3 separate regions of the Homo sapiens genome follow, and regions 2 and 3 are each reported to be linked to region 1. Evidence: microRNA targets listed by miRTarBase, many of them from high-throughput screens and not tested one by one. Region 1 holds a microRNA gene; each other region holds the end of a gene's coding sequence.

Evidence for each region. Region 1 holds the annotated microRNA hsa-miR-6832-3p (ACCCUUUUUCUCUUUCCCAG, at 1,247-1,266, opposite strand). A microRNA usually pairs through its seed, bases 2 to 8, with sites in the 3' UTR of a target mRNA and lowers its output. Matches are read on the target gene's strand: a 7mer-m8 pairs with bases 2 to 8, a 7mer-A1 pairs with bases 2 to 7 and ends in A, and an 8mer does both.
Region 2: miRTarBase lists XRRA1 as a target of hsa-miR-6832-3p. Seed matches in the 3' UTR shown: 7mer-m8 at 2,106-2,112 and 7mer-A1 at 976-982.
Region 3: the mRNA of CHCHD5 is a reported target of hsa-miR-6832-3p. The part of its 3' UTR that is shown has no 7-base or 8-base seed match.

What each region holds. Positions count from the first base shown.
Region 1 is chr6:31,631,855-31,635,104 of GRCh38, reverse strand. MIR6832 (microRNA 6832) reads right to left here and starts at 1,318; the gene lies at 1,247-1,318. It overlaps PRRC2A (proline rich coiled-coil 2A), which reads right to left. Exons shown (of 31, transcript NM_004638.4): 16 at 2,113-3,250; 17 at 1,458-1,726; 18 at 1,116-1,246; 19 at 740-869; 20 at 548-633; 21 at 128-352. RefSeq lists a silencer at 263-426.
Region 2 is chr11:74,840,684-74,843,933 of GRCh38, forward strand. XRRA1 (X-ray radiation resistance associated 1) reads right to left here. Exons shown (of 19, transcript NM_001378157.1): 18 at 3,171-3,250; 19 at 227-2,770. The coding sequence ends at 2,517. It overlaps RNF169 (ring finger protein 169), which reads left to right. Exons shown (of 6, transcript NM_001098638.2): 6 at 1-1,730. Among named protein-coding and RNA genes, the nearest start is that of RNF169, 93 kb to the left of the region's middle. RefSeq lists an enhancer at 3,170-3,250.
Region 3 is chr2:112,588,226-112,591,475 of GRCh38, reverse strand. It overlaps CHCHD5 (coiled-coil-helix-coiled-coil-helix domain containing 5), which reads right to left. Exons shown (of 4, transcript NM_032309.4): 4 at 2,436-2,610. The coding sequence ends at 2,587. Among named protein-coding and RNA genes, the nearest start is that of CHCHD5, 5.2 kb to the right of the region's middle.

The DNA.
Region 1 (3,250 bases):
TGGGGGAGGGAAAGGGAAATCCAAATTGGAATGCCCAGAACACACACGCAGAGAGAAAAAGCAGAAAAAGGTAGGGCCAAAGTCAGATTCCTGGAAACATTCCCCTTATCCTTTTTTGGTCTTTTACCTTTCTGTCCCCATCGTGGGGGGCAGGTGGTGGTCTCCTAGGAGGTTCAGAGCCAGGTGGACCCTCACAAGGAACAGCATTCAGGGGTGAGGAGCCTCCAGGCCTCTTGGGGGGTCCCTCTGCTGCCCCCTTGAGTCCTCCATCAGGGGAACTTCGCTGGCTGCAGGGACCTGATGACACCTGAGAATCCCCACTCAGGTCCACCCCACTGTCAGACTGACTCATCTGAGAGGAGTGGAGAAGGAGCTAGTTAAGTCAGGGTAGAAAGCACCCCAATACCTGACTGATGCACACATACAAACTGCAGAAAGGGGACAGCCAAGTGAGAGAACAGCTCCAGACTCAACCCAGAGCAGGTGGGGGGTATGACCAGTGCTCAAAAAAGTCCCAGCTCAGACACACCCTCCCACCCTCACTCACTTCTGTGCCAGCCACATCCTCAAAAGGACTCAGGGGCTCCATCCAAGGCTCCATGGAGCTGGGCCGGTAACTCTTTCGGCTAGTGGCTGGAGAAGGGAGCACCAACCAGAAGAGAAGTGAGGAGATGACAGTTCAGAAGCCCCTCTCATTCTTAACCCTTCTACCATAGTCCTTTCACTCAGCTTTACTCACCAGTATGTAAACGGTTCCAGATGTGAGGGGTCAGGGCCTCTGTGCCTGTATCTCTGGACTCTGCCTGAGGGCCTGGGCCCTCAGGCTTAGAGCCCAAGAATCCAGAGCTATGAGGAGGTGGCAAAGATTCCTACAGATGAGAAGGGCCAGAAGCAAAACATGAATTGGGTGGGAATTGGGAATTATAGGAAGCCAGGACAGAGTGGGGTGACACAGGGTGTGGGGACAACAAGGGAGACACATGGGAGACTAATACTGAGAATTCTGGAGTAAAAACACAGTGAAAGAAACAGGAAAGAAAACAGAGAAAACATAACCCAGAAGAATTTTCACGAGTAAGAGTGCAGTGAAGCACAATCTCAAACCCATCCCTTACCTCCTGTAGCAGCTCTGGTTTTCTGGGAGGCCGCTCCCGACGTTTAGGGGGAAAGGGACTAACCCCGGCAGAGTCCCGAGGAGTCCCACCCACCCCTCTCACCATTGGCCCCGGCTCCTCAAAGTGGGGGTCTGGGAAAGAGAAAAAGGGTCAGCATCTGCCTGGCTCTGCCACTGACCCTAACTTTTCCTCTCTACTCCACCTCCCAATTCTTCTACCCTTGCTCCCTGCAGAAACGCACCCAGCAGCAGGGTCCCTAGGCCAGGTTCTCCACCCGCTCCCTCCAGCACTTGACCTTCTCTGGGGATGGAGATATTCCCACCCATAACCCCTCCAGCTTACCAGAACTGAGGCCGCTGTTGACCCTCTGGGGCTCGTATCGGGTTGGGGGCCTAGGAGAGGGGCCCTGAGGGGCTTGGGGAAGCCCAGGCTTGTGCCTTGGATGACCCCCTGGTGCAGTTACACTCCCTTGACGGCTACTAAGCTGGGCCAGAGCCTGTTGGATGCCAGCAGGGTTGCTGTGGATAACTTGGTCCAGGCGGAAGACAGCAGAACTGCTGGGAGGTGGGGGAGGCAGGGGAAGCCCCGGGGGACGCTCCTCTGGAGGACGACTGGAGAAAACAGAGCATTAGCTCCAGTATCCACTAAATCGTTACTTTTTCCCACAAGTTATGTTTCCCAACTTCTGCTTACAACCTATTCTCTTCCCTATTAAAGTCCAGGTGTTTTTGAGTCCTTCTAAGGATTCCTATGCATACAGATGCACAGACTGGAAAGCAAAGAACCAGCAATGAATACATAGGTGGGTGTTCTTGACTCTAACACCCTACCAACCGCTTTCCAGTTGCCTTAGCCAGACATGGAAATCCTACTGACATTCTAGAGCCCATGGCCCCTCAGGCCACAATCTCCACTCCACCCAAACTTATCTTTCCCTCAGGCTTTTTCCCCCTCCTCCAATTTTTAAACCACAATAAATTTGTTTGTTCCTACCCACCTTCGGTTCTTGGGAGAGGGCCAGCTCCTCTTGTCGCCTCGTCCTGGCCCGGTCCTTCCTCCAGGACCCCCACCGCCTCCTCCACTGCTGCTGCCACTGCTGCCAGCCTTGCCCCCTGGGCCAGGGCGCCGATTCTGCCGTTCCATGCCTGGCCGCTGACTTGAGAAGCTCCGTTTACTCAAATCCTTGGCTCTCTGGCTCAGATCTCCGCGGGACATGGCTGAAATACCTGGTACGGCTCCACCTCCACCTCCCCCAGGAGTTCCCACAGCCTTGGGTGTCAGCAGTACTGGTGGGGGTGCCTCTTTGTCCCCTCGGCGCTCACTGGTGAAGTCACTGCTCTCTGATGCAGTCTCCCATTCCTCATTGGCTTGGTCTGAGTTCTGGTTTGACAGATCAGGAGACTTGGCAGCTGCCCGGCGAGGTGCTGGGGCCACTGTGACTGTTGTGAGGGCCTCCTCAGGTCCAGGAGCGGAGGCTGGAAGGGTTAGGGAGGGCTTGCCCTCAGACCCCCTTGCGGCATTCTCCCGTTCCTGCTTCAGCCTCCGGAAACGAGGCGGTTTATCCTGCTGCTGAGCCCTCCCATGTCGCCTCCTTCGGGGTCGCTCCCCATCTTCCATGCCCACATTGCTACCTCCATTGCTGCCTCCGCGCGCCACAGGGGACAGAGGCCCTGGGATCAACTTCTCTTTCAAAGGCTCCTTACTTGGTGGCAAAGGGCCTGTGGGAGGTTTCTTGGGAGCCAGAGACTTGGCTGGAGGGCTCCAGCCTGGGCAAACTTGAGGAGGGGGCCTCCCTCCTCCTCGGCCCCGGCGAGATGGCACCCCTCTGGGAGTGAAGACTCGCCCACCCCGGGCAGTGAAGCGGGCTGGGGCTGGTGAAGGTGGGGCTCCTGGTGGTGGGGGAGCGAGAGGGACCTGGGTGAGTGTTCCCTCCTTGGGTGTGGGAGCCTCCTTGTCTGAAGGAGCCAGATCACTCTCATGGGTCTCGCTGCCTGTTTCTGAGCCCCGCTGCCGGCGCCGCTTGGGGATTTCCTCATACTCTGAACCCTCGCTCCGTGTCTCGCTGGCAGTGCGGCCTCGGGGAGCAGGAGGGTGGTTTGGTCCCCCTGTCCCACCTCCACGCCCATCATCTCCTC
Region 2 (3,250 bases), not on the chromosome of region 1:
GTGAGAAAAGAGAACAAAGGCTGGGTCACAGTCATAGAATGTTACAGCTGGAATGGGCATGGAAATCATCCAAGTTAAACTTCTTCTCTGCCCCCCGCCCCCACTTTTTTTTTTTTTTTTTTTTAACCAAACGAACTTGTGATCCAGTGCCCTATTTTATAGTGTGGTTTTCCAGGGTCTGAATAAATAATCATTAAAGTTTGACACACGCAGACACACGCACCAATGATGGGGATACCCCCAAATGATTTAGGAGGTTATTTTATTTTAATAGTTTTTTCTTCCTGATTTTTTTCAGTTAGTTAGAGTTAAATGTACCTATAGCCCCTGAATACATGCTCAGGTAGAGAAAGTCTCCATAGTATAAGTAAGTAATATGAATGTGGAATCTTGGAAAGTGATATATTTTGATTGGAATAATTTTAATTAAATTTAATGATTTTAATTAAGAATTAAAAGCCAGCTAGCCAAATTTTCTTTAAAAATTGGAAACTCATTATGGTCTTAAATTGTCCTCAGGCAGCCTTTTCCTCATCAACCCATAGAGTGGTCTTTTGAACTGGTATCTAAACATACCTGGTTATGAATTCTCAAAAGAGAAAGCAGGTCTGGGGCGGGGTGGTCAGGAGACAGATTCTAGGGAAAGTGCTGAAGAGATTTTCTTCTGAAGATGATCTAGGAAATGCATCTTTATACATGATTGTTAGCTGCTGTAGCTTTCTGAAGAAGATTGTAGAAAAGAGACTAAGATATATGCAAGGGTCACCAGTTTAGAGATCAGTCAAATTGGAAAAAGTGCCAAGACTGGATGTGCAGATTGTTCTATGTATTATCAGTATTTTTTTCCTCTTAAGAAAAAAATTTACTCTCTCTCCTTTGTGAGTAAATGCCTCCTTAATGCCTTTTAAGTAAGGTGGCAACTTTTAACTGTCATCTTGTGAGAGGCAACCTCAAACTCTAAGCAGACTCCCTCTCTCCCTTTCTGGTGTCTTAAATCAAGAACTAGTTTGAAGCCAAGGCAAAGCAAGGTTTGTTCATCTTCCTTTCCTGTCATTTAAGGTAAAACAGGCAATGAACTCGCTCTTCAAATACCATAGTTCAAGAGTAGCTGTTGGCCCTGGTTCCAGATTAATATAGCAGCAGGCAGATTGCCCCTTCTTGGGGCCACCACCCTCCAAAGCTGTGCCACCAATGAGAGCATTGGGTTCAAGTTTGCATCAAACATGGTATTACCAACGCTGAGCCTCCAGCAGAGCACTTAAAAGTCCTAGTGAGAGAATAGATACTATGCAAGGGAAAAAAATTTAAATGCCAACGAATAGTTTTTTTTTTTTTGAACCTGATACACTGTTTGTTTACTCTCAACTCTTTGTACAAATATTATTGTCCTAAGGGCCTTTTCCCCTCCTGCCTAGAAAATAGGTTGTGTATTGGTTTTATTCAACCTGCTGTCTGCTTTAGGATTGGAGAAGGTACCTGGATCCTTGTGGACTGCCACTGCTGGCTGCCTCCTCTCCAACTCATCAGAAGAGCATTTTGACAAAGACAGAGGACTTGGACCAGGGCATGCCCTGTTGGGGATGTTTCTGTCAGCAAGGACATGGCATGGAATCAAGTGGGCTGATGTGTTGTTATTTAAACAGTACCAAAGTGCATTCTTCAATGTATGTTTGCCTGCTTGAAGCAAGGCCCAAGTTGAGAATACAGTAAAGGAAACTCATGAAAGTGGATGTTCTGTTTATAGTCAGAGTCTTGTCTCTGGTGAACAATCTCAGACAAAAACATGGGTTAAGCTTAGGCTGTGTGTGGATTTTTGGTGCTGTATGTGCTCTGGGAGATGCCCCATGTTGGATGTCTTGCTTTGGCATTCAGAATGGCAGTAGAGATTAGGAGCAGGGATGGGGTTTCCATGGTGTACAACTACGTCTTTTGGCATAAGTTATGTCCAGTTTACAGTTTGCTCCAATTTACTGTCATGTTCACATTCAACCATTCATGCTCCTAATGAAGGAACCAAGAAAGAGTCTGAGTAAAGAACGAATATACAGGATGACACTGTCCCTGCACATTAGGGCTGTACTCACAAGATCTGGTTTTTAAAAATACCCTTTTTTGGAGCCATTGTTCAGGAATTTGTTAAGATCCCCTTGGTGTCAGTTTCTCATACAACAGAGAACAAATGTATCCCTGTTGCATCTGAACTGGAAAACCATTTTTAGAGGGAAGTGTGACAATGCTGCTGTGGCCTGGGTTCCAAGAAAGAATGCATGTGGCACCCAGTCTATTGCCCTGTGCACCCACTCTTTATTGCCGCTGGGCCAGGCACCAGGTCATGCCTGGGCCAAGGAGGGGAGATCCTGACAAGGGGATGCCACCTTGTGGCCAGCAAGTGGGGCCCAGCTGAGCTCTGAGGCCTGTGGCCGGCTGGTCAACCTTGAGGTGCGGTCCAGGGCACAGAGCCCTCGGGGAGAGCTGGGGCACAGGCCGGGTGGTGCACACAGCCCCCATGCACAGCTCTAGCCTTGTGAGTCACTGGCTGTGGGCTCCTGGCAGAACTCATCCATGAACTCGAGGAAGTGGCCGAACTTGGGCTGGCTCTCACTCAGCGCTGGGCAGGCCATGGGGAGCGGGGTAGTCCCGAACACTGTGCGCAGAGAGCCACTCACCAGCTGCCGGTAACGTGCCTGGAACTCCTTCAACAGCCTCTTGGCCTCCAGGTACTGCTTGTGGTTCACCAGCCGCCGTTCTGTCCACTGGTGCAGGACAGCACCTGCAGGAAAAGAAGCCAGGAGAGGCACCAAGCTCATCCTGGTTCTCACCTAGCCAGAAGCAAGAGGATTGGGTCCAGAGACCCTTGGAAAATGGGATGGTGTGGCAGGAGGATGCTAAGGGGCTAAAAATGGCCTTTCCAGCTTGGGAAGTCACTGACTTCCTACTGCCCCTATGCATTGACTCTATCTTAAGCCCTGGTTCAGGACCTTAACATGCTGTGTGATTTTAGGCAACTCCCTGCCTCACGCTGGCTCTCCTTTTGTCCATCTACATGTAGAGACTGATGTAGGCAGTTGCTCTCTAAGGGCCTTTCCTGCACTGACACAAGCCCTTTCTTTGCCTTTAGCCAGCAGGCGTGAACTGGATCTGGGATCCTGGCAGCTGTGGCAGAGCCGTACCTAGTGGAGCCTCTGTAATGTTCCGGGGATCCCGCAAGCGAATGAAGATGTCATCCAGAAGTTGGGCTCTAGTCTTCTTT
Region 3 (3,250 bases), not on the chromosome of region 1:
TGTAAAGCTCAGGGCCCTTGTCCACTAGAGGCAAGGTGCCCCCTGACCCCTTCTTCCAAATATACTCTTTTGTCTCTTGTCTTTTATTCCTGCATTCGCCACCCTTTCTTCAGTCCACCAGGGATTGTGGCAGGTTACAGGAACTGATCACAATTCTCTCTCCACTACCTGGGTTTCCTCCTAGCTCAGACAAATGGTATAAAATCTTGCAACCCTGAACTTACAGGATTTCTACCCGGCTCCTAAACCAATGAACAACTTCCTTTGTCTTGGAGATTAATCCCTAGGAGAGACTCCCATAGGCCAGGCTCATTCTTCCAAGCCGAGCATAATCCTTGGGTATCAAATGGCCAGTTACTCCAATTTCCAGAGGTTTGGGATCACCTCCAGGGAGGAGGGCCTCGTCTGAATGGTGAATGTGGGTGCAGGCCATGGGCATGCTCAGCTCAGCACTCTGGGGTCTCCTCCTCTATTGCATACACGCCTGTCTGCTTTCTATTCTTTAGGACCAGTCCCTACTGGGGAGCCTGTATCAAACAGCAGGAGCCTGTATTCCTGAGAAGCATGAAGAAGCCACAGCAGCCACTGTTGGTACCTGCCCAGATCCACTCAGCATCTCTTCCGCAGGTTTAAGGCTGCTCACTTGATCCCATTATACTCTGCTTACGGCCCTCTTCTGATGGCAGAAGTGAACTTGGCCTATAAAGGGCAGGCCAGAAGTACCAGTCAATGCCCATGAAAATACCCCTTAATGACAGATGGGAAGTTGGTAGATAACACAATTCCCTTGCTCCTTGATAGGGTAACTGGGTTATGTTCTATAAAGTCCCCCACAGGTCCCCAGTGGGACTGAGTCCCAGTTGCCCAGAGTGGTAACTCGCTTGATAATGCACCTTTTATTGGCTGCCTTCCTCTCTATTGTCTCCCTTCTCCATTCCTCTATCAGTGTTTCTGGAATCAAATTCAAATTACCATCTGCACTCAAATTCTGAGTTGGCTTCTGGAAAACTGGAAACTAAGAACAGAAATCCAGTGCATAGACCAGAAGCGGTGGCTCACACCTATAATCCCAGCACTTTGGGAGGCTGAGGTGGGCAGATCACCTGAGGTCAGGAGTTACAGACCAGCCTGACCAACATGGTGAAACCCCGTCTCTACTAGAAATACAAAAATTAGCCGGGCATGGCGGCCGGTGCCTGTAATCCCAGCACTTCGGGAGGCTGAGGCGGGCAGATCACCTGAGGTCAGGAGTTTGAGACCAGCCTGACCAACATGGTGAAACCCCATCTCTACTAGAAATACAAAAATTAGCCAGGCATGGTGGCGGATATCTGTAATCCCAGCTACTCAGGAGGCTGAGGCAGGAGAATTGCTTGAACTCAGGAGGCAGAGGTTGCAGTGAGCCGAGATCACGCCATTGCACTCCAGCCTGGGCAACAAGAGTGAAACTCCGTCTTGAAAAAAAAAAAAAAAAAAGAAGAAAGAAAGAAAAGAAATCCAGTACATGGCCTTCTAAGCCATACATCCTTCCATGTGGTTGTTTTCAATAATAAAGCCAGTATTTTCATCTCCATTGCCTAATGCCTCTGTTGCCCAGTTGATTCTGAATTCAGCAGGGAAAGACGCATATTATTTATCACCCCCCAAGCCTCCAGAAAACTGAAAACAGATTTGGAGAATGCAGCCAGGCACTGTGTCAAGTGCTTACGGTAGTGCTAGCTACTGTGGAGGCTGAGGCAGAGGATCACTGGAGCCCAGGAGTTCGAGGCTGCAGTAAGCTATTATCGCACCACTGTACTCCAGCCTGGGCAACAGAGCAAGACGTTGTCTTTAAAATATATATATAGGCTGCGCGTGGTGGCTCACGCCTGTAATCCCAGCAATTTGGGAGGCCGAGGTGGGCAGATCACGAGGTCAGGAGATCGAGACCATCCTGGCTAACACGGTGAAACCCTGTCTCTACTAAAAAAAAAAAAAAAAAAAATTAGCCAGGCGAGGTGGCGGGCGCCTGTAGTCCCAGCTACTAGGGAGGCTGAGGCAGGAGAATGGCACGAACCCCGGGGGGCGGAGCCTACAGTGAGCCGAGATCGTGCCACTGCACTCCAACCTGGGCGACAGCGAGACTCTGTCTCAAAAAAAAATAAAAATAAAAATAAAATAAAAAATATATATATTAAAAAAAAATAACAATTTGGGGAATGCTAGAGTGGAAGGGATTGAGGGTCTTTACCCCAGGCACATGCAGCAGAAGTCAGGAAATGGCTGTGTGGCAGAGTTCACAAGGGAGGCAGGGTAGTCTCAACCCTGGGGCACAGCTGCAGAGTCCTGTTCTTCCCAGGCACTTCCTTGGCACACCCGGTGAAGCTGGGGAACAGATGACTCTGCCCAGCCAGCTCTCCTAGGACCCTCTCAGGTACGGATGGCAGGAATCAAAGCCCAGTATACAGAGTCTTTATTTATTGGAAGTCCTGATATCCAGGAAAGCCGGGCCCATGTCCAGGGCTCAGGACTCCATCTGGCCACTCTGCAGGGGAGGGGCGTGGGGGCAGTCATTCATGTCCAGTTTTCCTGCCGTCAGAGGAGTCCTCAGGAGGCAGGAAGTGGCTGTGCCTGTGGAGAAAGTACATCAACATCTAGTAGCACCTCCTCTGTGCCCAGCCTGGGGAGCCTATGTAGACACCACAGAGGGAGACCCTGCAGAGCCCACAGTCTGGAGGGAGAAGGGTGTTGGGCAATGACCTTGGCCCTGAGCCATGTGAAAAAGTCAGCTGTGGTGAAGTGTCATGGGAGGCAGGGAACGCGCCATTCTGCTATATTTACTGAGCACCTGCCGTGTACCCAGCAGGCAAAACTCTCTGACTCAAGCAGGGAGAGACGGACAATAAATATGTCAACATCCAAGAAATTCGATGAAGAAAATTTAATCAGGGTAAAGAGCAGAGGTGTGTGCGGAATGGGAGGGACATGTACCACTTTGATTGTCAGCCACAAAAACACAGGACATTCTGTAAAGTCTGTATGCCATGCTGCAGGAGATGAGAATGTTTGTGTTCGCTATTGTGTAGACCAGACAACAAATCTCACTGCCCCTAGCTAGGAAGGAAAAACTGTAACTGGGATGCCATCCCCAGGAAGGAGGGGATGATGAGGAGATGTGACCTAATTCCCTTTTTTTTTTTTTTTTGGAAGACAGAGTCTCGCTCTATCGCCCAGGCTAGAGTGCAATGGTGCAATCTTGGCTCACTGCAAC